Linked DNA regions of Homo sapiens. The protein of the gene in region 4 purifies or fractionates together with the protein of the main gene of each other region. This does not show direct contact. Each region holds a gene or a part of one and is shown on either strand. Other genes may lie near its edges.

What was found.
Region 1: the proteins of SPN (region 4) and SAAL1 purify together in Homo sapiens (affinity purification with mass spectrometry; 2 studies listed by BioGRID and IntAct, with this or other methods). This does not show direct contact.
Region 2: the proteins of SPN (region 4) and SLC39A11 purify together in Homo sapiens (affinity purification with mass spectrometry; 3 studies listed by BioGRID and IntAct, with this or other methods). This does not show direct contact.
Region 3: the proteins of SPN (region 4) and EIF2B3 purify together in Homo sapiens (affinity purification with mass spectrometry; 3 studies listed by BioGRID and IntAct, with this or other methods). This does not show direct contact.

What each region holds. Positions count from the first base shown.
Region 1 is NC_000011.10:18,082,074-18,089,098, forward strand, and holds part of SAAL1 (protein SAAL1), read right to left. Parts: intron 5,153-7,025; coding exon 5,070-5,152; intron 4,982-5,069; coding exon 4,793-4,981; intron 1,659-4,792; coding exon 1,462-1,658; intron 1-1,461. UniProt on the Homo sapiens protein: Plays a role in promoting the proliferation of synovial fibroblasts in response to pro-inflammatory stimuli.
Region 2 is NC_000017.11:73,082,671-73,089,695, forward strand, and holds part of SLC39A11 (zinc transporter ZIP11), read right to left. Parts: intron 6,106-7,025; 5' UTR 6,095-6,105; coding exon 5,987-6,094; intron 2,177-5,986; coding exon 2,138-2,176; intron 1-2,137. UniProt on the Homo sapiens protein: Zinc importer that regulates cytosolic zinc concentrations either via zinc influx from the extracellular compartment or efflux from intracellular organelles such as Golgi apparatus. May transport copper ions as well.
Region 3 is NC_000001.11:44,850,583-44,857,607, forward strand, and holds part of EIF2B3 (translation initiation factor eIF2B subunit gamma), read right to left. Parts: intron 422-7,025; coding exon 369-421; 3' UTR 1-368. UniProt on the Homo sapiens protein: Acts as a component of the translation initiation factor 2B (eIF2B) complex, which catalyzes the exchange of GDP for GTP on the eukaryotic initiation factor 2 (eIF2) complex gamma subunit.
Region 4 is NC_000016.10:29,658,801-29,666,261, reverse strand, and holds the start of SPN (leukosialin precursor), read right to left. Parts: upstream 3,016-7,461; 5' UTR 2,946-3,015; intron 2,568-2,945; 5' UTR 2,534-2,567; coding exon 1,331-2,533; 3' UTR 1-1,330. UniProt on the Homo sapiens protein: Predominant cell surface sialoprotein of leukocytes which regulates multiple T-cell functions, including T-cell activation, proliferation, differentiation, trafficking and migration.

The DNA.
Region 1 (7,025 bases), on a different chromosome or scaffold from region 4:
GACATAAGAATTTGCATGACATAGCACTCGTGTATTCTCAGCCCACCTTTCTTTGATGTTCCCACCACTTAAAAGTTAAGAAATATCGATGTCCCTTGCTCCAAAAAACAGAAACAACAGCAAAGAATGGGAAAAAAATACATGCGATAAATATGGAAAAGATACATTATTACCCAAGAAATTCATACAAATAATCAAAATGGATAAATTATTAAAAGGTAGGAAACAAATTAACATACGACATCCAAATATTTCAATCTCATTAATTTAAAAATGCAAATCAAAGTAAGACACAATTTATTACCTGAACTTTGACATAAAAATTATAATACCCAATAATAAGCGTCAAGTAAAACCAACATTTTCACATATAAATAGCATTTTGACAAAATATGGCCATCATGACTTAGCCATCTTCACATTTATAATGTTGAATCCAGTAATTTAAATTATATAAAACCTGCTAAGGTAATAACCCCAAATCTGGAAAATACAAATATGGAAAAGGGAAGCAAGACAACTAATAAAAAAAAAATCACCAGAATAAGAGAAACTTTTTGTTTCATTTTGTTTTTTGAGATAGGGTCTCACTCTGTCGCTCAGGTTGGAGTGTAGTGGCACAGTCTGGGCTCACTGCAGCCTCGACCTCCTGGGCTCAAGCAATCCTTCCATCTTTGCCTCCCAAGTAGCTAGGATCACAGGCGTGTGCCACCATGCCCAGCTAATTTTTGTATTTTTTGTAGAGATGAGGTTTTGCCATGTTGCCCAAACTGGTCTCAAACTCCTGGGCTCAAGTGATCCACCTGCCTCAGCCTCCCAAGTGCTGGGATTATAGGCGCCTGGCCAAGAGAAACTTCTTAAGGAATACTCTTTAAAAAATTAAGTGGGTATGAATAAATATATTCTTCACAGCTATATTTATAACATTTTATATTCATAATACAATATATTCATAACATATTCATAATACATTTCTTTCCAAATATATGGATAGAAAAAACATGGTCAAAAGAAGAATATTAATAACCATTGAACATATTCAGGGAGAATGTTCCTTAAAAGAAGTTTGCAGTAAATTTTGAAAACTGATTATTTGGTAAATTAGGTTTAAACTGGCTCTCAGTAAAAAAGTCTTTCATCTAGAATCAAGAAAAATGTTTATAATACAGTGTTAAGGGAAAACAGTAGTCTATAAAAATTGCATATGCTGGGTTAAAGTATATGAAAAATGCATTTATAAAAACACATGCATGCAAACATAGGCATATGTCTGTCACACGTAAATATACCAAACCACATCAGCTAGTTGTTTTTAAGATTATAAACTCATGGTGATATTAAGATTTTACTTTATTTTCCCAAATTATATATTACTTTCATATTTAAAAAAAAATAAAGTTTGAAGCGTTAAGCAACCCACACTTTCTTTTGCTTATGACATCATCAATACTTCTTTCCTACCTTTGTTAATGCCTGAAAAATATTAGAAAGAAATTCACATAAAATATCCTTTAAGATTTTCAAGTGGAAATCATCTTGGGTTAAATCAGTCCTTTTAGTTTCCTCTGTGTTAGACTCTGCCGAGTTCTCTGGTTTTTTCTGACACTGTTCCATATTTTGTAAGACCCGAATGAGGCTGTCAATTAGAGGAAGATCTACTGTATAAACAAATCAAGAAGCATGGAATTGGCCAGTTAAGTTTGGTTTTTCATTCATATGTATTGAATTAGTGCTAGACATTATTATTTTGGGTATTACAGATACACTGGTAACATCAGCAAGATGTCAGCCCATAAGAGGCTTACATTTTTATACTTTCAAATAAGTAAATAAAACAGACTATTTCAGGTTTTGGTTAAGTTCTATGAAGGAAATAAAAGAGGAATATAATATAGCAGCCTAGCAGGGCTAGCTCTCTGACAAGGTAACATTGAGTTGAGAACTAAAGCAATGAAGCATCAGCAATTAAAATACCCTAGGAGGTCAGGGGTGGTAGCTCACGCTTGTAATCTGAGCAGTTTGAGAGGCCAAGATGGGCGGGTAGCTTGAGCCCAGGAGTTCGAGACCAGCCTGAGCAATATGGTGAAACCGTGTCTTTACAAAAAGTACAAAAAAATTAGCTCACAGGATTTTTCTACCACTACCACTGTTACCATCTTGGTCCAAGTTATAACATTTCTTGCTATGAGTCAATTATGAAGAATCTCTAAAAGCCTCCTAACTCATGTCCCTTTTGTACCCATGACTCCCCATATTTCTCATCAAAACAGCAGCCTATTAAAGCCAGCTCATGCGTAGGCAACTTCTGCTTAAAACCCACCATGGTTCCCCACCTCATTCAGAGGAAAAGGCAACATCAGGCCCTCCATACTCTACCTCTCTGGCTCCATGTGCTACTTTGCTAAATCCACCCCAGCCATATGGGATCTCACTGTTCCTCCTCAAAGACACCAGGCATACTTCTGGTTGAAGGCTTTTACACTTTCCATTCCCTCTGTCTGGAATGTTCTTCTCCCCAAGTATGCACATGACTCCCTCCATTCTGTCCCTAAGGACTGTACTCAATGCCACCTTCTCAATGAGGTAACGTATCTACAAATGAAGATCTTAAAAATATTCAACATTCCTTTTTTATTAAAAACTCTTAATAAAATAGAAACAGATTAATATTTCCTTAAATGGTAAGACATATATCTGTTTTTGGAGGGGGGGTGCGGAGTATTGCTCTGCTGCCCAGGCTGGAGTACAATGGCGTGATTTCAGCTCACTGCAGCCTCTGCCTCCCAGGTTCGAGCAACTCTCCTGCCTCAGCCTTCTGAGTAACTGAGATTACAGGCATGCGTCACCAAGCCTGGCTAATTTTTGTATTTTTAGCAGAGACAGGGTTTCACCATGTTAGCCAGACTGACTTTGAACTCCTGACCTCAGGTAATCTGCCCGCCTCAGCCTCCCAAAGTGCTGGGATTATAGGTGTGAGCCACAGCACCTGGCTGTAAAACATATATCTTATACCCAATAATGCTTAACAATGGAACTCTAGGATTATTCCTACTAAAATCAGGAAGAAGGTAAGGATGTTTTCTACCATCACTATTATTTTACACCAGAGACTCTAGGCAACCCAGAAAGACAAGAAGAATAAACCAGAGATAGACAAGTGATAAAATATATCTAACTTAAGCCAAAGCACTATCAGATAAAGCCCAAAGATTATTACTGGAACGACTACTAAAAATATTAAGAATTTGGTAAGGTTACAGGATACAAAGTTAATATACCAAAATCAATAGCCTTCATATATTCCAACAATAATAATCAGTGGAAGAAAATATGTCACAGACAATAGTAAACCCAAAAGATACAATTATCTAGGAATGAAACTAATAAGAAATATCCAAGATCCATATGAAGAAACCATTACTGAGGGACACAAAAAAGACCTGAACAAATAAAAGGGCATAACATATCCTATCAAGTTAACACGATGTCAACAAAAATGTCAGAAATTTTTTGTTTTTGGAACTCAAAGTTAGTGATAAAAATAGTTAAAAACATTCTGAAAACTTAGAATGAAGAGGAATTTGCCTTATTAGGTATTAAAACATAAAACCTTAATATTTAAAAACACTATGGCTACTAATATATGAATACAGCAATGGAACTGAACAGAATATATAGGGGAATTTTAAAAATAATGATGAAATTTCAAATCAGTGTGGGTAAGCTGGATTATTCACTAAATGATGTTGAGATAACTGGGTAGCCCTCTGGGAAAAAACTGATACCACTAGAACCAAAGTTATCAAAGGGGGAAAAAAAATTAAAGCCACACTTCACATGTGACACGAGAATAAATTCTAAATGAATCATGAATTTAATTGTGGTCATAAAAACAATTCTGTGAAAGAATATGTGTTTATATAGGAAAATATTCATTTTATATTTCTAAATGAAATGTTGGCTAAAAAGCAGAATTAAATATATGTGCATGTGTGGGATGGTAAGATTACAAACATCATGTTTCCTTGATATTTTTTATAAATTTTTCGGCAGGGTGCAGTGGCTCATGCCTGTAATCCCAGCACTCTGGAAGGCAAGGCAGGAAGGTCATTTGAGCCCAGGAGTTTGTGACAAGCCTGGGCAAGATTGTGAGACCCTGTCTCTATAAATATTTAAAAACTAGCCAGGTGTGGCGTCATGTGCCTGTAGTCCCAGCTACTCAGGAGGCTGAGGTGAGACAATCACCTGAGCCCAGGAATTCAAGGTTGCAGTGAGCTATGATCCTGCCACTGCACTACAGCCTGGGCAACAAAATAAGACTCTGGCTTTAAAATAAGTAAACAGGCCAGGTGGGGTGGCTCACGCCTGTAATCCCAGCACTTTGGGAGGCCGAGGTGGGTGGATCACCTGAGGTCGGGAGTTCGAGCCCAGCCTGGCCAACACGGTAAAAACCCGTCTCTACTGAAAAAATACAAAAATTAGCTGGGCATAGTGGTGTGCGCCTGTAATCCCAGGTACTTGGGAGGCTGAGGCACGAGAATCACTTGAACCCAGGAGGCAGAGGTTACACTGAGCCAAGATTGTACCACTGCACTCCAGCCTGTGCAACACAGCAAGACTCTGTTTCCAAAAAATAAAAATCAATAAAAAATAAAATAAATAAATATGATAATAAAATAAATTTTTGAAGTTTAGCATGTAATGTTTTTATAATTAGGGAAATGAAAGCATTTTTTAAAAGGGAGAAATAAATGAAATGAAAAACAGTATGAGCCTGGGAAACTGTACTTGCCTTTTTCTATCTTTAGATACTCTTGCTCAGTCTGTGAGGCATAGATGGCAGACAACACTGAAAAAACAGAGGCTAGCACTGTTTTCTGTTCTTGAAGAATGATGGGTGGATCATCAGACTGGCAGAATTCATGGCAGACCAGGTCAAAAAGTAAATTCCAAATGTCTTTTCCAGTGTCAGGACAATGTACTTAATAAAGAGGACAAATAAAGCAGTACTTTAAAATCAGCAAACAATTAAATGAGTAACTGTAGTGCATCCCGATAAACCACCTTACCAATTGCTTGAATTCCATCATCCACTGTAGTAAGCAGTTGTAAAATGTGCATGTAAACATCAAGCCATTCTGGATTTTCAGAACTAAATAGGAAAAGTAAAAGCACTGAATCAACAACTTTACTGTCCAGGGGATTCCAATCATTCCTCCATTCAATAAATATTTATTACTCTGCCAGCCACTGTTCAAGGTGCTGAGGATAAAACAAGGAAAGGAACGAAGTCTCTGTGTTCGTTAGAGCTTTTATATTCTAATAGGGGAAACAGCAAAAAATAAACAAATATTATATAATATAATCAACACACACAGGACAAGAAGTAAAAAAACTTTTTGGCTCTATCTCATAAAAGCAACAACGCAGAAACCTACCAGTTGATACTTTATCATTTTGGTTTGCTTGAATAATCAGAACAAAAAAAGACTGCGATTTTTATAGTATGAACGTTAAGGTCCGCTGCATCACGCATCAACAATAATGATGTTCTGAAAATGTCTCAGGATTAACCTAGCTCCCTAGCTGAGAACACTAAAACCATGTAAGTCTAATTCTTATGATCAACCGTTTGGATTCTCAAAAATCTAAATAGTTTGGAAACTCAAAATCTTAGTTCTTCAACCAAACAAGTGAAAAGACAGTGAACAATTAAAACAATGGTTTGGCAAATGTTTATTTAAGTACTTACAAATTTCAGGCACTATGTTAGGAGTTGAGAAAACAGATGTATAAGATGTTATCCCTACCTTCATAAACTTTATACTCTAAAAGGAAAGAAGATTCCAAGTGGGGTAATTACAATAAAGTGGTACTAATGTAGCACTATGGGCTAGGAACTTCACAAAGCAAGGAGACTTAGTTTGCAGGGTCAGGGAAGGTATCTTAAGAAAAATGATGTTTACACAGAAACATGAAGGGGCAAAGAAGTGTCTGAGGTGGAGGAAACATACTGTGCAAGGGCCTGGAGACAAGACAGCCTGGTTCAGTTGAAGAAGTGACGCAAACTTCACATGACTGAAACGCAGAGTACAAGGAATAAGGATAGCGCTACTGGGTCCATAAGCTGTACTTTATTTTTTTGAGAATTTTTCATTTATTTCATTCTTTTTTCCCCTATTTTATTTATTTATATTTTGGATTCAGAAGGTACATGTTGGGGGTTGTTACATGCATGATGCTGAGGTTTGGGAATATGGATGGTCCCATCACCCAGGTGATGTATGTAGTACCCAAGCTGTGTTTGTTTGTTTGTTTTTCTGGACCTTATCCTAAGGAAGGCAACTGAAAAGACCGAAGCATGAGAGTGAAATGAGTGCGTACTTTGCAAAAACAGCTTTAAAGTCTAGGCTTGGGAAGAGCAAGCATAGAGGCAGGGAATTCAAGTAAAAGAATGTGGCAGTTCTCCAGATGAGAAACAATAATGGCTTGATTGGCATGGATGGAATCCCAGAAAATGTCAGGAATAAGGGTTGGGAGTTGACTGCAATGGGAAAATACTGGGGCAGGAAAGATTCAGTAATTGGCTTCTCCATTTCTTCTACATTATCCAAATAGGATAATGATTACATCATTTACTGAGATTGAGAATACTGATGAAGCAGGTTTAGGGAAAGATGATGAATTTATCCCTCACTTGGATAAAGGACACAAAATTAATAGGTTTTGATGTGGCTTACTCAGCACTAAGAATGCACTAAGAAAAACACTAAGCAGATCAATTTAAAAATTAATTTTCTAGTGATTAGCAATAAACAGTTTTAATGACCTGTAAGGCTTAGTAATCACTCTTGGCAAGACATCAGAGTCCCAACATCGGTCACTTATTGAAGACTGGCATATAAACACAAGGAGCAAAAAAAAGCAAATGATGTGCAACGTTAATGAAGTTGTTAAATGTTCAATGTAAAATAAAGCACAAGAAAATGTTTTCTCTTTGATTTAAATTACATAAAATATGGTAA
Region 2 (7,025 bases), on a different chromosome or scaffold from region 4:
TTTGATTAGATCCACCTTCAAAGGACAGGATCACATCAGAACTGCTAAAGGAATTGTGGGCCGGGCATGGTGGCTCACACCTGTAATCCCAGCACTTTGGAAGGCCGAGTTGGGTAGACCACCTGAGGTCAGGAGTTCGAGACCAGCCTGGCCAACACGGCAAAACCCCATCTCTACTAAAACCACAAAAAAAAAATTAGCCAGGCGTGGTGGTGCACACCTGTAATCCCAGTTACTCGGGAGCCTGCAGCAGGGGAATTGTTTGAACTCGGGAGGCGGAGGTTGCAGTGAGCCAAGATCCAGCCACTGCACTCCAGCCTGGACAACAGAGGGAGACTCCATTTCAAAAAAAAAAAAAAAAAAAATGGACTTATGCCCAGTGATTAGAGACAAGGCCCTTCACTTTCTCCGTGCCAGCACCAACATTCCAAGGGGCCCTCCATGTCTGCCTGAAGACCATGCCACCCAGAGACAAGGTTATAAGGCAAGAGCATCTTTCTTGTGTAAGGTGGGAAAGGGAAGCTGTGCCAAGGAAGGAAAGAAAGTAGGGCTGGCTTCCCCGGCATTCTCAGGCACAGCAGTTATAGGGAAGAGAACGTATGGAAGCTGAGGACCTAGAAACTAATTTTCTCAACACTCTCTGTGCACCTGTGTATGGCTCAGAAAGGACAGTGTTTTTGACGGAACAGTGGCTCCAGTCTAACAGCTACTGACTCAGATGGCCTCTGGCAGGCTCCACCTCCAGGCTAGTTTTTCCAGATCGCAGGGCTATAAAAACTGAAGAAAGAAACCAAACCCTGATCAACTAAAAGGGAAACCCACATATTACACGCCTTTTGATATGGGTAATACATCTGCAATACACAGCACCATGACATCTTCATGCCTGAAAAATGGAATCTGAACTAATCAAGACTCCAGGTCTAACTCTCAGCTTACAGGAAATACAGGGGACTGAGGAACAAGTTAGGCAGCACCACGAGGAAGTAATCAGCCAACATTCTAGAGACAAATGACCCAGTTTCTCCAACAAATTACTAGCATGAAAAAAAAAATGAACTGTTAAAAAATTAAAGAGACTTAAAAGATATAACAAGCAAATGCAATATAGAAACCTTGTTTGGACCCCAATTATAACAAAACAATATTAGATGACACCTTTAGAAAGATGAAGAAAATCTGAATATGGACTGGATGTTAGATCATAAAAAGGAATTATTAATTTGGTAGGTATAATGGCCATGTGATTATGTTTATTTTTAAAAAGTCATTCAGTTAGACATGTGTGTTGAATTTACAGGTGGAATTACATGTCATCTGGGATTAGCTTTTATAAAATATTCTAACCTCCCAAGAAGTTTTGGGGAGGACAGGTGAACTGAGATTAGCAAAATGTCAATAATGATTGAAGTTGGGAGATGGGTGTCTGGGATGCATTACAGGCTTCTATCCACAATTTTTACATGTTTAACAATGTCTATAATATGCTGGGTTCCATAACTCACGCCTGTAATCCCAGCACTTTTGGAGGCCTAGGCAGGTGGATCACTTGAGCCCAGGAGTTCAAGACCAGCCTGGGCAACATGGTGAAACCCCATCTCTGCAAAAACTCAAAAATCAGCCAGGCACGTTGGCACATGCCTGTAGTCCCAGCTACTTGGGAGGCTGAGTTGGGAGGATCACCTGAGTCCAGAGAAGTTGAAGCTGCAGTGAACCATGACTGTGCCACTGTACTCTAGCCTGGGTGACAGGGTAAGGCTCTGTCTCAAAAAAAAAAAAAAAAAAAAAAAAAAGGCCTATAAAAAAGATCTTTTAAGGGAGAAGGGGAGGAAAAAGTATATTTAGTTAGAGCCAACTATGTATTAGGCTAGGCCTGTGCTAGGCCCTTACCAAATAAGATCTTATTTCCCTAGTCCTGAGGCAGCTGTCAAATAAACCTCGATTGCTGTCTAAAGAGAAATGGGCATTTGATAAGCTGGGAAATAAATATGGCAGGTGATAAGAGGGAGGTGTTAGTGCCTGAGGAACACAGAGATGCATCTAGGTCGCAAGGGGAGGGACTGAAGACAGCCCTTGGCAGACACATGTCAGAATCAGTATGCCTCAATTTCCATTTCTCCTACTACATGCTACTTACCCCTGCAGCAAAGCCAAGACTTCCATCTAAGATCCGCCTCTGAAAATCAAAACAAGATGTTTCAGTTTCCAAGAGACAATAAGATGATGTTTCCTGGGACAAGAAGAAACCATAAGGCCCAAAAGAGCCACGCAAATAAAGACTGGCCGACTCCTGAGCTCGTGAGCTACTCAGTTTATACCATGGGCCAAGAACCACGGGGAAAGTCTTTGGTTAACTTTCCACCCACCCCATAGCCAATCAGAAGCGTTCTTTCAAGTGGTGCTTGGCTTGTCTTGGCCCTTGTGTTGTCTCTTACTCAGCTTTCCCTGTGAATTACAACTGTAAACCTTTAGTAAGTAGCCTGTCTACAAGTTGGGAATTACTGAGCGTTGGTGAGGAGCAGAGGAGCAGGTGGAACAATCAAAACCCTCACACAGGCCGGGCACAGTGCTCACATGTGTAATCCCAGCACTGTGGGAGGCTGAGGCGGGCAGATCACCTGAGGTCAGGAGTTCAAGACCAGCCTAGCCAACATGATGAAACCCCATCTCTACTAAAAATACAAAAAAAAATAGGCTGGGTGCAAGGGTTCATGCCTATAATCCCAGCACTTTGCGAGGCCAAGGCAGGTGGATCACCTGAGGTCAGGAATCTGAGGTCAGCCTGGCTAACGTGGTGAAACTCCATCTCTACTAAAAATACAAAAATTAGTCAAGCACGGTAATGCATGCCTGTAATCGCAGCTACTTGGCTGAGACAGGAGAATCCCTTGAACTCGGGAGGCAGACATTGCAGTGAGCCAAGATCATGCCATTGCACTCTAGCCTAGGCAACAAGAGCAAAACTCCGCCTCAAAAAAAAAAAAAAAAAAAACCCTCACACAATGGCGGTGCAAACGGGTACCACCATTTTGGCAAACTATTTGGCAGCACCGATGAGAGGTGAACACTATGTGTGCCACTCCTGAGTAATCCCATGACAGGAATGCACTTGTATTCAACAAACCCATGAAGAAAAATGTTCGGCAGTGCTAAGAGCCCAAAACTAGAAACTACCCAAACTCTCACCAACAGTAGGATGGATATGTTAACTAGGATACACTCATACAACAGGTACCATAATGGCGATGGGAACGCACACACATACTACAGTTACATCTTACAAACAGACAGGGACATTAAAGAAACTGGAAAACAAGTAGGGTAAAATCAGCCAGATGCAGAACAGTACGTACTATATGATTACTCCATCTAAATAAAGCACAGAAACAGGGAAAATATCCGTGCTGTTAGAGATCACATGGGAGATGACCCTTGGAGTAAAGGTTGGGGATGGTGAGATTGGAAGGGAGACTGAAGGCTCCTGATTGGAAGGGGCTGTGAGGTGAGGAGCTGGTACTGTTTTGTTTCTTGATCTGGGCTCTAGTTTCATGAGCACTTGTGGAAAGTTATCAAGCTGCATACTTATATTAGGTTGGTGCAAACCTAATAAAATGCACCAGCCTAATAAAATGTGCATTTTTCCATAAGCATCTTCTATTTCAATACAGATTTTTTTTTTTTTGCTATCTATCCATAGATGAATGGATAAACAAAATGTGGTATGTACATACAATGGAATAGTCTTCAGCCTTAAAAACAAAAGAAATTCTGGCACATGTTATAACGTGGATGAGCTCTATGGACATTCTTTGAAGTGAAAGAAGCCATGTGGTCTACAGAACTTTTCACCTTACAAAATTAAAACTCAGCTGGGCATGATGGTGCACACCTGTAATCCCAGCAGTCTGGGAGGCCGAGGCAGGCAGATCACTTGAGGTCAGGAGCTCAAAACCTGCCTGAGCAACATAGTGAAACCCCATCTCCACTACAAATACAAAAATTAGCTGGGCATGGTGGTGCACACCCGTAGTCTCAGCTACTTGGGAGGCTGAGGTGGGACGATCACTTGAACCCAGGAGGTGGAGGTTGCAGTGAGCTGAGATCATGCCACTGAACCCCAGCCTGGGTGACAGGGCAAGACTCTAGCTCAAAAAAAATAAAAAATAAATAAATAAAACAGCCTGGCCGGATGGGGTTACCAGCGAAACCCCGTCTCTACTAAAACTACAAAAAAAATTAGCTGAGCGTGGTGGTGTATGCATGTAATCCCAGCTACTCGGGAGGCTGAGGCAGAAGAACCTTTTGAACCTGGGAAGCAGAGGTTGCAGTGAACCAAGATCACGCCACTGCACTCCAGCCTGGGTGACAGAGCAAGACTCTGTCTAAAGAAAAAAAAAACAAACAAAAACAAAAAACCCTGAAACTCTGTACTCATTCAAGAATAACTTATTTCTGCCCTCCTCTGTGGCCCCTGGCAATCACCATTCTACAATGTGTCTCTGTGAATTTGACTTATCTTGGCATCTTATATACCTAGGTTCCAGATAAACCATGTTTCTGGATTGTGTGTTTTCTGATTTCCAGTCTCCAACCCATCAGCTCCCGGGGGCAGTGCAGCGCAGCAAGGGAGGTCGGGATTTTATTGTTGAAATCAAGGCCTGCTGTACTGGTCTCTAACACAAGAGTGCCTGACTTGTGAACTTCCTAAAGGTGTTTTCATTTCCAGATCTCCCTCACAACATGTTGAACTAGATCTTAAGTCACTTATTCATTTGCCGTTTCTACAATGTCTCAGGCTACCGAGGTGATCGATGCAGGGATTGTGCATTCATCAAGATACCCATGGATGGCTCCAGGGCTGCGGACTGAGGGTGATCTGGGTTGGAGAAAAGAATGCAATTTCAGGTATATGAGGTGAGTGTGGGTTGTGCAGAGGTGTGGGGAGGGCATATGGGTATGGGTATGTGTGCAAGTGTGGGTATGTGGGACTATAGGTAGAGCGTGTAGAAGGGGTGTAAGGATGGGGTTGTGGGAGGAGGGAGAGATAGGCTGTGGGGCCATGACAGTGAGTGAGGGCACTGGGAGTAGGATACAAGGAAGATGTAGGAGAAAGAAGTAAGAGTTTGCAGGGGGCCAGGGACATGGGTCTGTCTATATTCATCCCAAGGGGAAAGGAAACAACCTGGAGATGGGTTGAAAAAAAAGGGAACAGATGCCCCTTCTTCTCCCAAGGTCTTTCCAACCATCCCACCCAACTCAAGTCCACAGGGGAGGACAGTTACACCTGAAATCTAATGTTCTTCGGTCACGCATAGTACCACTTGCTCCAGGCCTGAAAGAAATTACATGGCAGGCCAGGCACGGTGGCTCACACCTGCAATCCCAGCACTGTGGGAGGCCGAGGTGGGTGGATCATCTGAGGTCAGGAGTTTGAGACCAGTGGTGAAATCCCACCTCTACTAAAAATACAAAAATTAGCCAGGCGTGGTGGCACATGCCTGTAATCCCAGCTACTCTGGAGGCTGAGGCAGGAGAATCACTTGAACCCGGGAGGTGGAGGTTGCAGAGAGCTGAGATCCTGCCACTGCACGCCAGGCTGGGCAACAGAGCAAGATTCTGTCTCAAAAAAAAAAAGAAAAAAGAAAAAAGAAAAGAAATTACATGGCAGGTAGAAATTAGGCAGCGGGCTAACGAAGCCTCAATAACTGGGCTTCTCACTTCCTATTCCCTTCAAGTCAGGCTGTCAAGGGTCAAGAGGGGAGATGATGGTGCATGAAGGTGTCTACAGCAAGCAGACATCTGTTCTCCCGGCCTGGCAGGGAGAAGGTGAGAAAATAAGAAGACAGCGAACAAACCCCAGTACACAATGCCTGGGGGTGTGGCCAGGGGCACTGAAAAGTCTACAAACCTGCTCCATGGAGTGGGACAGTGCCCCTTTACCAACGGGCTCCCCACCAACATCCAGAACCAAAGCAAGGCAACTCACCTGTCCACTAGAGAATACGAACACGAGAGCTGCCCCAGCTGCTGTCATCCCCCAGGTGAAGAAGGTCCCCAGCAAGGCCTGGAACACAGAGCTGTGGCCTTGGAGCATGCTGGATACAGCTGTGCAAGAGGAGCGAGAGGGTCAGCCACCGGTGGTCCGTTTCAGTGACAGGCGCATATTCTGACGGGTCCTAACACCCTGTGTGGGAGCTGGCCTCCCTCCAGGTTGACCGTATGCACCCTTCCACCACGCCATCTGTGTCCCTCAGCCACCCAGCACACAGGTCAGGCTTCTCTATCCAGGTCCCCCAGGAACTGGAAATCGTCTTAATCTGAAAGAAGGCACAGGGAGATGCCAGGGGAATCCACAAAAAAGGCTGCAACATTGAAAAGTGGTTTCAAAGAGAAGCACAAAGAATGTGGTTTATTCCAGAAGAAGGGGGCATAGGAGGGTCTGATGCAGCCTCCCCCACATAATCTGCCTCTTCTACCGTCTCTTGCCCACCATCCGCACTCAGCCTCCACCAAAGACAGGTGACTAGCTCAGGTGATGTCAACACGCTTCCAATCTTAATCCCCATCACATCTGCAACAGCGCACCTGCCCAGCCAAAGGGTAAACTCCACCAACCAACTTTTGATACCCACCAACCCCCGACTCTCCAATCCCGTTCTCCATCATGCCTGCACGAGCACCCAACTCCAGCTCAACTGAATTATTTATGGCACCTTCCACAAGCCCCAGACAATCCTGCCTCCAAGTCCCTGTTCATGCAGTTCCCTCCTGGAATACCTTCCTTGCACATTTCCAGCCATCAGAACCCGGAGCACCCTCTGCAGCCCACATAATGCCAACCTCACGACCAAGGCTTTTCTGGCCTTCCCCAGCCCTGTCCTAGCATGCAGCTTTGGTCCTCTCTCAGTGTGGCTTTGCCTCCATCTTTTACAGCCTTAGTTGCTTGAGGACGGGGACGGTGCTTTTTCACATTTGGCACCCCTGTAAAATAGGGCTTTGTAACCCCTGAAAAATATGTGCTGGAT
Region 3 (7,025 bases), on a different chromosome or scaffold from region 4:
CCAGGTCCTTTTAGGTGAGGGATACTTTCAGGACTGGGTTGGGTCAGCCAGTCAGAAAGTAGCCTTCCTAGGAGCTTTACATTGGACAGCTGCTGCCCCACCGATACATCTTGGCACACAAGAGTTAGGCCACTGTATCTGTCCTGTCCCACACACTTGCTCCAGATGATCTTTACCACATGACACATGAACATACACTGTGTACACCTGGAGCCCACCTGACATGGAGCTTTGGACTGCTCCACAAGTCTCCAGCATGCCTTTGGAAGCCCTTCTTTATTGGGAAATAAATACAGAGTTAAACAGGTGGGCCGGCCAACATCTGTGGCTTTGGAGGCCAAAAGGAAGGAGTCTGACTTGCTCAGAACTCAGATCTCCATGAGCTGGTCATTCCCCACGATCACCTCATTCACTCGTTTAGCTACAAAAGAAAAGGAAAAAAGTTTTCTGAGAACTGGCAGCAAGATGACATTTCAAACCCAACTGCTTTTTTTTTTTGGAGACCGAGTTTCGCTCTTGTCACCCAGGCTGGAGTGCAGTGGCACAATCTCGGCTTACTGCAACCTCCATCTCCCAGGTTCATGCGATTCTCCTGCCTCAGCCTCCTGAGTAGCTGGGATTACAGGCGCCCGCCACCACGCCTGGCTAACTTTTGTATTTTTAGTAGAGATGGGGTTTCACCGTGTTGGCCAGGCTGGTCTCGAACTCCTAACCTCAGGTGATCTGCCAGCCTCAGCCTCCCAAAGTGCTGGGATTACAGGTATGAGCCACCACGCCCAGCCAAACCCAACTGCTTCTAATTCTGTGTTCACAAAAATTTATTTCTCTACTATTGTGGCTGTGATCTTGAGAAGCTCTTGGAAATAGGGATATGAGAGAGAGAGCACCTTCCTATGCAGGAGGATGGGACCAACTGTCTATATACCTGGCTGTGGTGAGGCTTTAAATAGGAGAACTGAAACTGGGTCTTAAAGGGTGAATAGTTTCTACAGGCAGTGATGGAAGGGATTCTAGGCTGTTAGAACAGCAAGGGCAAAGACAGTGAGATGGGAGAAAGGGGACCATGAAATACTGTGGTGTGGCCAGAGAATAGGAAATGAGGGGATAAGGGTAAGAAATGAGGCTAAAAGGATAAACGGAGATAAGAAAGGGCAATACCTCATATATAATATGGAAATAATGACACCTACTGCATAGGGTTGTTGTGAGAATTCAATGAGTTAAAGGTAAGTGAATGCTCAATAAGTTGTGGCTATTATTATTTCTATAAAGGTCAAACCCATAAGGCCCTCCATGACATCTTTGCCTACCTCTCCAGCTTCATTTCCCACTATTCTCCATTTTGCCAGTAAGCCATACTGTTTTAATCCCTTTTTTTTTTTTTGAGATGGAGTCTTGCTTTGTCACCCAGGCTGGAGTGCAGTGGCGCAATCTTGGCTCACTGCAACCTCCGCCTCCTGGGTTCAAGTGATTCTCCCGCCTCAGCCTCCCCAGTAGCTGGGACTACAGGCATATGACGCCACACATGGCTAATTTTTTTTTTTTTTTTTTTTGTATTTTTAGTAGAGATGGGGTTTCACCATGTTGGCCAGGCTGGTCTGGAACTCCTGGGCTCAAGTGATCTGCCCTGCCTTGGCCTCCCAAAGTGCTGGATTACAGGCGTGAGCCACCGCACTTGGCCCTGTTTTATACCTTTGAACTTTGGCACAACCCTCTGCCTAGAATGCTTCCCCCTCCATTTTTTCCTGTTGCACTCTTACTACCCTATGTGCCCTAACGTAGCACCTCTAATATGCGATGCCTTCCCTTTTGCACTGTCCATTTCCTGCTTTGTGAAACCACTGTACCTAATATATATCTCTATTCCTACATCATTATACCACTCTCCTCTACTTCACTATAAGAACATTGAGGGCGCTGGGCGCGGTGGCTCATGCCTCTAATCCCAGCAGTTTGGGAGGCCAAAGCAGGTGGATCACCTGAGGTCGGGAGTTCAAGACCAGCCTGGCCAACATGATGGAACCCCATCTCTACTAAAAATACAAAATTAGCCAGGCATGGTGGCGCATGCCTGTAATCCCAGCTACTCGGGAGGCTGAGGCAGCAGAATTGCTTGAACCCAAGAGGTGGAGGTTGCAGTGAGCCGAGATCGCAGCATTACACTCCAGCCTGGGCAACAAGAGTGAAACTCTGTCTCAAAAAAAAAAAAAAAAACAAACCAAGAACATTGAGAGGAGAGATGGAACAGTGTAGTTATGATTATATCCCCAGTGTCTAGCATAGCTACTGCCACATGATGATTTTAGAGGTTTTGGGTAATGACTAAGATAGGATATGGTCATATAACTGGAGAGCTAAAGCTGAATGCAGATGAAGGTTGGTAGAGAAGTTCAGGGAATCATGAAGCCGGAGAGCTGGACAGTTTACTGATGAATATGTTTAAGTTGTCCAAGATGTTATGGACAAGTGAGGGAGAGGAGAGGAAGACTGTGAACCACAGGCTAAAGCTCTTAATAAATGTAGGGAAGTACCCTGGAAGCTGATCAATGATGCGGTGAAAGGTAAGAAGAGCTATAGAAAACTTTCAAGGAAAAAGAACTATAGAAAGGAGGCAGTGAGCCAATAGCCTGGAAGGGGCAGGGGGAGCCAGGGAACAGAGACTATATCTGGCATGTTGGGGTTGATGTATTTTCATGGTGATTCAGTAAGTTGGAGGAAACCTGTAGAGGCACAACAAGCAGAACTAGGCCGGGCGTGGTGGCTCGCTCCTGCAATCCAGCACTTCGGGAGGCCAAGGTGGGTGGATTGCCCCAGCCCAGGAGTTTGAGACCAGCCTGGGCAATAGTTAGACACCATCTCTACAAAAAATAAAAATATTAGCTGGATGTGGTGGCATATGCCTGTGGTCTCAGCTACTCAGGGGCCAGGGAGGGAGGTCGCTTGAGCCCGGGAGGTCAAGGCTACAGTGAGCTGTGACTGTGCCACCTACACTTCAGCCTGGGTGACAGAGTAAGACCCTGTCTCAAAAAAACAAAAAACTAAGCAAAGCTAGTGATGCTTGGTCAGGGATGGGAGTAGGGTCCAGTAAATACACTGGAAAATCTTTGGGCTGGAATCAGGTTGGGAAAGATCCCAAGGGGAAAAATACAAGGGAGGATGATAAGTTGGGAAAATAGCAATGGGATAGAAGGGAAAAACATCACAAATAAAAGGTGCACTGTTGGGAAACTGGGAAAGCTTCCTGCTGGCCAGGAGGATTTGACCTGTGTCAAGTATACATCAACAGCCTGACCTATACCAGGTCTACTTTCATGGTCAAAGAACTGATCACTCTGGCCATAGGGAAGAGATCCAAGTTCTGTCACTGACTGTAAGAAGAGACTCAGATGAAGCATGCTTTTAGCAGTTAGTGTTTTTTTTTTTTGTTTTTTTTTTTTCTGAATGGAGTCTTGCTCTGTTGCCCAGGCTGGAGTGCAGTGGTATGATCTCTGCTCACTGCAACCTCCGCCTCCCAGGTTCAAGTGATTCTCCTGCCTCAGCCTCCCAAGTAGCTGGGATTACAGGTGTGTGCCATCACACACAGCTAATTTTTGTATTTTTAGTAGAGATGAGGTTTCACCATGTTGGCTGGGCTGGTCTCGAACTCTTGACCTCAAGTGATCCACTCGCCTTGGTCTCCCAAAGTGCTGGGATTACAGGCGTGAGCTACAGCCTCTGTACCCAGCCATTTTTTAGGTTTTGACTGTTAGCTGTAGCCATTCTACTGCTTGAGAAGGTCAAATTTGGCTGCCAGTATTTTTGCCAGAGATAACCAATGAGAGTATTGGGATGGGGTGAGAAAAGTCAGAGTTGTTATAAAATGGCTTGTTTTCGTGTTGGTGCTAGAAGAGGGTAGGGAGGCCTACACTGAGTTACGAGCCATACTTTTGGGGAAAAAGACTGCTATGGATGTGGTGACTCTGGAGCATGAAAATGATTAGAATTTGGAGAGGAGACTGCATTATGTCTTTTTTTTTTTTTTTGAGATGGAGTTTCGCTCTTGTTGCCCAAGATGGAGTGTGATGGCGTGATCTCAGCTCACCACAACCTCTGCCTTCCAGGTTCAGGCAATTCTTCTGCCTCAGCCTTCCAAGTAGCTGGGATTACAGGCATGCACTACCACGCCCGGCTAATTTTTTGTATTTTTAGTAGAGATGGGGTTTCTCCATGTTGGTCAGGCTGGTCTCGAACTCTTGACCACAGGGATCCACCCGCCTCAGCCTCCCAAAGTGCTGGGATTACAGGCATGAGCCACCGCATCCGGCTGAGACTGCATTATTTCTTAGGATGAATGTTTTTTCCTGAAACCCCTTCATGTGAGGAAGACTGACGGAAGACTTTGCCATCTATTGAGCTCTTTGCTGGTAAGGATGTGAGTTGTTGGTGTTTGCCTAGGTCACCTATAGTAACAAGTCTTGAGTGCTGCACTGATGGTTAGGAGTTTGCTTTCACCATACGGCTCAGTCTCAAAAAAAAAAAAAAAAGAAGAAGTAATAGTGGAAAAAGGCAACTGGCCAGGGAGTTCCTGTGGCAGGAGGGCACTGACCACTGTGCTGGATGCACTGGTCCTTCCAGCAGAGGACAGAGAGAAGGAAGTGGTGGGGTTGTCCAGTTTAGAGCCCAGACAAGATGACTTCCCTGGCCAGCCCTCCTTCAGCAGGACCATTAAAGGGTCTCCTTGCTAAAAGGTGGACACATAGTGTTAATTAAAGCCAGAAAGCCCAGGAGTTTATGAAGCCCATCTCATGATGATTGCAACCATCGCACAGAGGCCTTTCTTGGAACCCTAACTTTATACCCTGAAATCCCCCAAAATATGTTTCATGGATCCAACATTCATTCATTCACTCTTTTCCCCTTCTGAGCATTTACCATAAATCAGGACCTGTTCTGAGAGCTAGGGATGCATATAGTTATGAGACAATCGACCTTGAGGATCTTTTTTTTTTTTTTGAGATGGAGTCTTGCTCTGTCACCCAGACTGGAGTGTAGTGGTGCAGTCTCAGCTCACTGCAGCCTCCGCCTCCTGGGTTCCAGCAATTCTCCTGCCTCAACCTCCCAGGTAGCTGGGATTACAGGCATGCACTACCACACTTGGCTATTTTTTGTATTTTTAGTAGAGACGGGGTTTCACCATGTTGGTCAGGCTGGTTTCGAACTCCTGACCTCAGGTGATCCGCCCACTTCGGCCTCCCAAAGTGCTAGGATTACAGGTGTGAGCCATCATGCCCAGCTGACCTTGAGGATCTTAGTAGGGAAGGCTGATTCACGGATAATTGCCATGGCTTGTGAAACATACTTTAATAAAGGTGTGGCAAAGCTCAAGGACACAGTGGAAGGAATGTGTAGTTCTGCTATGGGGAGTCATGGGAAGAGGCAGAGAAGGTTCTACAAAGGAGAAAACACTTGGTCGGAGTCTTCAAGAGAGGAAATCTAGAGAGAGCACATGTAAAAGCATGGAGAGGTATAATGGCACGGTATGTATGAGGAATTCTAAGTCTTTTGGTACACTCAAGGAGTAGTGCATATACCTGTCATTTAATTATATGTAATTCTCACAATTCTCCAAGGTAGCTATTATTGTCCCAATTGTCTAATTAAGAAAATCTGGGGCTGGGCGCAGTGGCTCATACCTGTAATCTCAGCACTTTGGGAAAGTGAGGTGGGTGGCTTGCTTGAGGCCAGGAGTTCAAGACCAGCCTGGGTGACATTGCAAAACCCTGTCTCTACTAAAAACACAAAAATTAGCCAAGGGTGGTGGTGTGCCCCTGTAGTCTCAGCTGCCCGGGAGGCTGAGGCACAAGAACCACCTGGATCCAGGAGGAGGAGGCTGCAGTGAGCTGAGATAGCACTACTGTACTCCAGCCTAGGCGACAGAGCAAGACTCTGTCTCAAAAAATTAAAATTAAAAAAAAAAAAAAAAAAAAGGAAAATCTGAGGGCTTAATGATTAAAAATTTCACTTGGTGCACAGCCACTAAGTTGAGTTGAGATGTGAACTGAGGTCTGTTTGATTCTAAAGCCCAAAAGGAAGGCATATGACTTTAAAAAAGGGAAGGGGGAAGAAACTGAAGAAGGAAATGATGTGGCGTCTACAGAGTTGGTGGGGTTAATTCCTTCAGCAACTCCCCTCCCCACCTTATTTTAGGTTTAGGAATAATACCAAAAGCAATCAGTCATTTTAATTTTTATTATTATTTTTAAGACAGGGTCTCCCTCTGTCACCCAGGCTAGAGTGCAGTGGTGCGATCTCAGCTCACTGCAGCCTTGACCTCTCAGGCTCAAGCAATCCTCCTGCCTCAGCCTCTTGAGTAGCTGGGACAACACGTGTGTGCCACTGTGCCTGGCTAATTTTTAATTTTTTTGTAGAGATGGGTTCCTGCTATGTTGTCTAGGCTCAAGCGATCCTCACATTTCAGCCTCCCAAAGTGTTGGGATTATTGGCATGAACCACTGTGCCTAGGCTTCAAGAATCACTGTACAGTATTGGTGCCAACCTGGGCCATTAGATCTATTGATATGTTTTCAAGGTTTTGAGATTAAGGGTGCATACATGTATAAGCTTATCTATAAGATTAATTTCTAGAAATGAAACTGTTAAGTCAAAGTAAAAAAATTTGACAGTGATGCCAGGTGCGGTGGCTTACGCCTGTAATCCCAGCACTTTGGGAGGCTGAGGTGGGCAGTTCTCCTGAGGTCGGGAGTTCGCAACCAGCCTGACCAACATGGAGAAACGCCATCTCTACTAAAAATACAAAAAATTAGCTGGGCGTGGTGGCACATGCCTGTAATTCCAGCGACTCAGGAGACTGAGGCAGAAGAATCGCTTGAACCCGGGAGGCGGAGGTTTCAGTGAGCTGAGATTGCACCATTGCACACCAGCCTGGGCAACAAGAGTGAAACTCCGAAAAAAAAAAAAAAATTGACAGTGATGTCAACTGCTCTCCAAAGATGGCTTTATCAATTTATGTTCTCGCCCGCAGTGTA
Region 4 (7,461 bases):
GTGCTGGGATTAAAGGCACCAGCCACTGTGCTCACCCTGGCATTCTGTATGGGGCTACAGACAGAGTTAGATTTTCTGCTATGTCCACCCCATCAGAGCAAAGATGACACGCACGTTCTCAGCAGTCCCTGTGTCCCCCATGCCCAGGTTGACCCTCTTCAGTCTCTGCACCACTTCCCACCCCCACACCGTCTGTACCCACAACTACCCCTCCCAAGCATCGCCAAATCCTCAGCTCTTGCACACAAACCACACCCACGAGTGGACACACGCAGGCACTGGGGTTTCTGAGAACTACACCCAGCCAGAAACTCGGAGGAGAAACCGTGAGGCCTCTGGCTGCCTCTGTCCATGGCTGGGGAGAGTGTGGTGGTGTGGGCCAGGGCCAGCCTACAGTCCATGTGCCCTGGGAAAGATCACAGGCCCGCCTGAGAGCATGGGCTGGTGGCCCCACCCAGCCATGCTCCAGGCTGGCCTGGGGGGCCCAGAGCTAAAGGTGGTTGCGGGCTGCCCAGGTTCCACAGCCCTTGCAGCTACAGGGCAAGGGTGCTTTACAAAGTTAATCCTAGGAGGGAGTTTGCCGGGTTCTCTTGTCCTTCTTCCCAGACTCTGGTCAACCCAGGGTGGGTTCTGGGGGAAAAGGAGAATTGTCAAAGAAATCACAGGGCAGATAAGTTTGGCCGATGGAGACTCAGCAGCCGTTTCCAGGAACAAGAAAGAGGGGGAAATGGTGATGGAGATAAATAGGGGTGGATGAGGAGGGTTTATTCATTCAGTCCACAGACGTTGAGAGGTGCCAGCCCTGCCCTGCCCAGGCGCTAGTTGTGGGTGCTGGGTGAGGATGGCAGCAGGAAATCCAGGGCTGAGAAGCCTCATGAGGATTCAGAGTGAAGAGGTGGGTGAGGAGGCAAGGCGCGGAGGCTCATGTCTGTAATCTCAGCACTTTGGGAGGCTGAGGCAGGTAGATCACCTGAGGTCAGGAGTTTGAGACCAGCCTAGCCAACATGGTGAAACCCCATCTCTACCAAAAATACAAAAAAGCAGCTGGGCATGGTGGTGGGTGCCTGTAATCTCAGTTACTCGGGAAGCTGAGGCAGGAGAATCGCCTGAACTTAGGAGGCAGAGGTTGCAGTGAACTGAGATCGTGCATTGCACTCCAGCCTGGGCGACAAAGCGAAACTCTGTCTCAAAAGAAAAAAAAAAAGGAGATTCGGGTGAGGATCAGGGTGCCGGGTGGAAACATGGGAGCGAGGGGGCAGTGGGATGGTGAGAGGGAAGGTGCTGGAGGCTGGCTGAGATTCCGGCCTCCAGCCTCACTATTCACCGACACTTAAGGGGCAGCCCCGTCTCCCCCTTCGGGCTCATCAGGAGCTGGGGCGTCCACAGCCCCATCCTCACTGGCCACCAGTGGCTCCTCCTCCCCTTTGAGGCTGGGGCCTGACCCAGACTTCAGCTCCTCCATCGCCAGGGAGCCCTGGCGAGACTTCCGTCTGCCAAAGAAAGTGGTGAGCGTGGGCCGACGGCTAGACCCCTCCCCATCGGGGAACCCAGAGCCCTTGTCGCCCCCGGACCCTCCCACGGTCACTGTCACGGCCCCCTCCTCAGGGACCTGGGCTGGCCCAGCCCAGGCGTCCACCACCCCGTTACGCTTGCCGCCTCTGCTCAGCACGAGGGCCCCAGTCCGCCGCTTCTGCCGCCGGCGCCACAGCAGGAGCAGAGCCACGAGGACTATGACCGCCAGCAGGGCCACAAGCACAGCCACTGGCAGCATGCCTCGTGAGTTCTCATCTGGGTTCCGGAAGGGCACAGTGCTTGCGTTGGTGGAGGTCGTTGGAGACATCATTGTAGATAGTTTTACGCTAGAGACCTGGGGTCCACTGGCCCCGCTGGAGGGCTCCAGAGAGCCAGTTGTCATGGTAACAGGGGGTCCAGTGGTCCCAGTGGAGGTCTCCAGAGAGTCAGTTGCCATGGTAACAGGGGGTCCAGAGGTGCCTTTGGAAGTCTCCAGAGAGACAGTTGCCATGGTAAGAGGGGGTCCAGAGGTGCCTCTGGAGGTCTCCAGAGAGCTAGCTGCCGTGGTAACAGGGGCTCCACTGGTCCTACTGGAGGTTTCTGGAGAGTTCGTTGTTATGGTTCCACCTGTCACGGTGTGGGATCCTAGAGAGTTTGCTGTTATGGGAACAGCAGGATGACTGGTTGCATGAGGGGTTTCCTGGGGCACTGATGACATCTTGATGGAAACTTCCTGGTAGGTTGTTGGCTCAGGTAAAGGGGAACCAGTGCTGGCACCAATGGAAGTCCAAAGAGGGGATCCCTCATTGATGGAAGTTGAGGGAGGTAGGGCTGAGGTCTGGTCCCCAGTGCTGTCGGCCTTAGGGTCACTTGTTATTGAAGTGGTGTACATCTTTGAGCTCAGGGGCTCGCTAGTAGAGACCAAAGGCTCTCCGGAGGTGGGTGTCTGCACTGCTGTTGTGCTCCCCAGAGCGTCTGGGCTTACCACCAGCACCCCAAGGAGAAGGAGAAGCGTGGCCATTTCCAGGCAAACAGGCAGGAGCAAGAGCTGGGACCTGCAGGTGGGCAGCCGGAGAAGCAGAACACGCGGGAGTTGCCGGAGGACCTGGCCGGGCCTCCCCTCTGCCCACTTCCCTGCCAACGGCCAGGCCCAACCTGCGGTTTAACGGTTTTTTCCATGCTGGCTTTTACTGTTATCAGAAATGACAGAGGAACAGATGCTGGCAGCTCCCCCATCAGCCCCATCCTGAGGCTCCCTCCAGCCTCAGCAGCTTAGATTCCAGCAGTGACCAGCCCCTCCTGGCCTTCCCTGACCCTGTGCAGCCCAATGGCTCCCAATCTCTTCCCATCATAACCTGTCAGAGTCTTTTCAAGCCACAGGCACATTCCCAGGCCCACTGAGGCCCCTACCCCACCAAGTCTCACCCTCTTACCGGCTCGGCTGATAAGGACGCAGCACTGGGGCCAGGTCACTCCACCACCTCCCGAGGCTGGGGCAAGACTGGGAAGGACAGGGCCCCAAGGGGAAAGGAAGTGGGCCCTGGCTCCACCCACCCCACCCACCCCTCCATCCTGCCCCACCCGCCTGCTCCCACAGCTGCTGGGCGAAGACAGCACCATCACCTGCTCCTTCAGGGGCCAGCGGGGTGCCTGGGGGTCTGGGGCTCACCTGAGGGAGGCAGGGAAGCGTGGGATCTGGAATCAGGATTCCTGGCTCTTGGCTGAGGAATGGGATGGAAGTGGTGATGCTAGGGAGGGCTGGGCTCAGAGGTGGGTGGTGGGAATGTGAGCCTGAGAACTCAAGGGTGCAGAGGAGGAGGTGGGAGGGGAGGGTGGTTTCCTTTGCATTTGTGGTCCCCAAGCTGTTAGGCCAGGAGCTGAGTGGCGCCATTTCCTGCCCTCAGAGCTCCCAGGAAGTAGCAGGGCAAGAGGAAGCCCCCGAGTCTGGCTGGGGGCCGTGAAAACCTTTGCAGGCTGGTGAGCTCTTGACTCTGTCCGGGGAGCTGGGGGTCACCACAGTGGCCCCCAGTCACAGAGACGTGGCTAAACCAAGGTGGTTCCTACACACTGCATATGCTAGGATCTTATTTCTGCAAACTAGTAAAGATGTGGGAATCTTTTTTTTTTTTTTTAAGGCGGAGTTTAGTGCAATGGCATGATCTTGGCTCGGCTCAGCACAATGTCTGCCTCCTAGGTTCAAGCAATTCTCCTGCCTCGGCCTCCTGAGTAGCTGGGATTACAGGCTTGCACCACTGTGCCCGGCTAATTTTGTATTTTTCGTAGAGACGAGGTTTCTCCATGTTGGTCAGGCTGGTCTCGAACTCCTGACCTCAGGTGGTCCATCCGCCTCAGCCTCCCCAAGCGCTAGGATTACAGGTGTGAGCCACCGCGCCTGGCCAGATATGGGAATCTATATGGAAAACCGTCTGGAAAGATATCTACTAAGGGATTCACCTAATTGTCTTTGGATAGGTGAGAGTAGGAGGTGGGGGTATTTTCTTCTTTGAATGGTTCCCATTTCCTGACTTTCCTCTAATTAGCAAGCTTTGACTCTCGGTTTGTGTATGTTTTTGGTTTTTGTTCTTGAAAAACGAAAATCAGTCCCGGGTGTGGTGATACATTATGCTGGCAGTCCAGGCCAAAGTGGGAGGACCTCCTGAGCCCAAGAGTTTGAAACCAGCCTGGGCAACGTAGCAAAACTCCTATCACTAAAAAAATAAATAATTTTTTAAAATCAAAACTGATTTGTATATTTTAAGAGCAACATGTGCACAATAGAAGATTCTAACAGGCCCGTGGGACTGTGCCATTTCTACAAGCTGATGAGTTTGTCTGACCCAAAGACATGAGACTCCTGGGTGAGAGCCACAGGAATTAATTGCTCACACCAAGCAACAGCAGCGTGATGTTTGCATCAGTTCCCCTTACCCCAAGTCCCACGGGGGCAACATGGAAGGGCCCAGACTGACACCATGCACACAGTGGGCCTGCACCGCAGCCATAGAGCTCTGAGCTTGAGAGATTCCCCTCCTCTAGGGGCCCTGGTAAGCCCAGGTTCCCACAGGGAGACGTGTCTTCATCCCTCGGGTGTGCTCACTGCAAACACAGCACTGAAAAATGGCTTGAGTACAAAGTATTCAGAGGCTGAGCGTGGTGGTTCACGCCTGTAATCCCAGGACTTTGGGAGGCTAAGGCAGGCTGATCACTTGAGGTCAGGAGTTCGAGACCAGCCTGGCCAACATGCTCTCTTTTCTGCGCACAGTGGCTCAGAAAGGTAACGGGGTGCCCATTCTGCAGGGGGGATGAGGGACACAGGAGCAAAGGAGTATAGACTAGAGGGCTGCAGAATCAGGCCCTACAGACTTCCTGTCCTACCACCACCATCTTCCAGCTGCATGACCTTGAACAAGCACATAACTTCTCCAATGCCCTAGGACCGCCACCTTCTTCATGAAGTGACTGCAAGAATTAAATGAGATAATGTTAAGTGCACAGAAAAGCAGCTACCAGCACGGGACTCTGGGTTCCTGTCCTACCTCTTGCACTTGGGCAAGTGCCTTAATCTCCTTATCCCTCTGTTGCTTTGTATAAATGGCGATAATTATGGTAATACCACATAGTTTGTTTTGATGATTAAGAGTTAATACATATAAACGGCTGGGCACGGTGGCCCATGCCTGTAAGCCCAGCACTTTGGAAGGCCGAGGCAGGCAGATCACCTGAGGTCAGGAGTTCGAGACCAGCTTGGCCAACATGGTGAAACCCCGTCTCTACTAAAAACACAAAAAATTAGCTGGGCATGGTGGCGGGCGCCTACAATCCCAGCTACTCGGGAGGCTGAGGCACGAGAATCGCTTCAACCCAGGAGGTGGAGGTTGCAGTGAGCAGAGATTGTGCCACTGCACTCCAGCCTGGGCAACAGAGTGAGACTCCAACTCAAAAAAAAAAAAAAAAAACTGCTCAGGACCTGGCATTCTTGATACACCCAATATATCAGACAAAAAGGCTCCATACCCATCACCTCCAGACAAACATTCCTGACAGTGTCTGTGTTTACACAAGCATGTATTCATCCATTTTAGTGTTTTGCACTTTTCCTTTGTTACTGAACAATGCTTTGGGAACACACACACATATATAACAGTTGCATAATATTCCATGGCATACACTATAATTTTTTTTTTTTTTGAGACGGAGTCTTGCTCTGTCACCCAGGCTGGAGCGTAGTGTCTCGATCTCAGCTCACTGCAACCTCCACCTCCCAGGTTCAAGCGATTCTCCTGTCTCAGCCTCACAAGTAGCTGGGACTACAGGCACATGCCACTATGCCCAGCTAATTTCTGTATTTTTAATAGAGACAGGGTTTCACCGCGTTAGCCAGGATGGTCTTGATCTCCTGATCTTGTGATCTGCCAGCCTCAGCATCCCAAAGTGCCGGGATTACATGAGTGAGCCACCGCGCCCGGCCAGAAATACACTATATTTTATTTATTTATTTATTTTTAATTAATTTATTTTTTTGAGATGGAGTCTCACAGTGTCGCCCAGGCTGGAGTGCAGTGGCGCGATTTCTGCTCACTGCAAGCTCCGCCTCCCGGGTTCAAGCCATTCTCCTGCCTCAGCCTCCCGAGTAGCTGGGACTACAGGCGCCCGCCACGAAGCCCGGCTAACTTTTTTGTATTTTTAGTAGAGACAGGGTTTCACCGTGGTCTCGATCTCCTGACCTCATGATCCACCTGCCTCGGCCTCCCAAAGTGCTGGGATTACAGGCGTGAGCCACCGCGCCCGGCAGAAATACACTATATTTTAAATATTCCCTACGGATGAACATTAGATTGTTTTCCAACATTTCATTATTACTAACTGCTGCAGTAAATACCCTAGTTTATTTCACTATAATTATTATGTATTTCTGTTTTAACAAGCCAGAAAAAAGAAGAAAAGAAAGAGGTAGAGTGAAAGAGGAGAGAAGGAGGGAAGGAAGGAAGGACGGATGGAAGGAAGGAAGGAAGGAAGGGAGGGAGGGGAAAGAAAAGAAACCAGGCTCACGCAGTGGTTCACTCCTGTAATCCCAGTGCTTTGAGTCTGGGACTGTACCCTACCTCCTGCCTCCAGAGGCGGGAGGATCACTTGAGGCCAGGAGTTCAAGGCTTGCCTGGCCACATAGTGAGACCCTCATCTCTACCAAAAAAGAAAAAGAAAAGAACCCATTCCACTGTCAGACATCTAGGAGGCTATTTCAATCTTCTGCTATTGCAAATAGAAGAGCAAGAATAATTGGCTGCAAAGTAATTGGAACTTACTTTTTTTTTTTTTTGAGACAATCTAGCTCTCTTGCCCAGGCTGGAGTGCAGTGGCATGATCTTGGCTCACTGCAACCTCTGCCTCCTGGGTTCAAGCAATTCTCCTGCCTCAACCTCCCGAGTAGCTACCACACCTAGCTAATATTTTGCTATGTTGCCTAGCTGGTCTCGAACCCTTGGACTCAAGCAATCCACCCACCTTGGCCTCCCAAAGTGCTGGGATTACAGGAGTGAGTCACTGCACCCAGCCTACAGTTTTTTAACTGTAGAAAATAGAAATGTTGTAAGAATGTACAAGATTCTCAACCTTTAAAAAAACACTAAGGCAAAATTCATTTTTGACAAAGTTATCATTTCAACCAAATTGTTACTGCTGTCGGCAAAGCTGTCTGTTCCCCAAGCCAGATGTTGGGCCCCAACTCAGGAGAGCTGCGAGGATGTGGATGGGTCCAAACTCCAGCCTGGTGCACTCAAGAAATGGGGTCTGACCAAGACAGACTATAGGCTCGGGGTGGAGGGAAAGATAATGAAAATATGAACAAGAGGTGATTGTTGCCTGCAAATCATCACAGAAGAGCAATACTTAGGCTGGGCGTGGTGACTCACTCCTGTAATCCCAGCACTTCGGGAGCCCGAGACAGGAGGA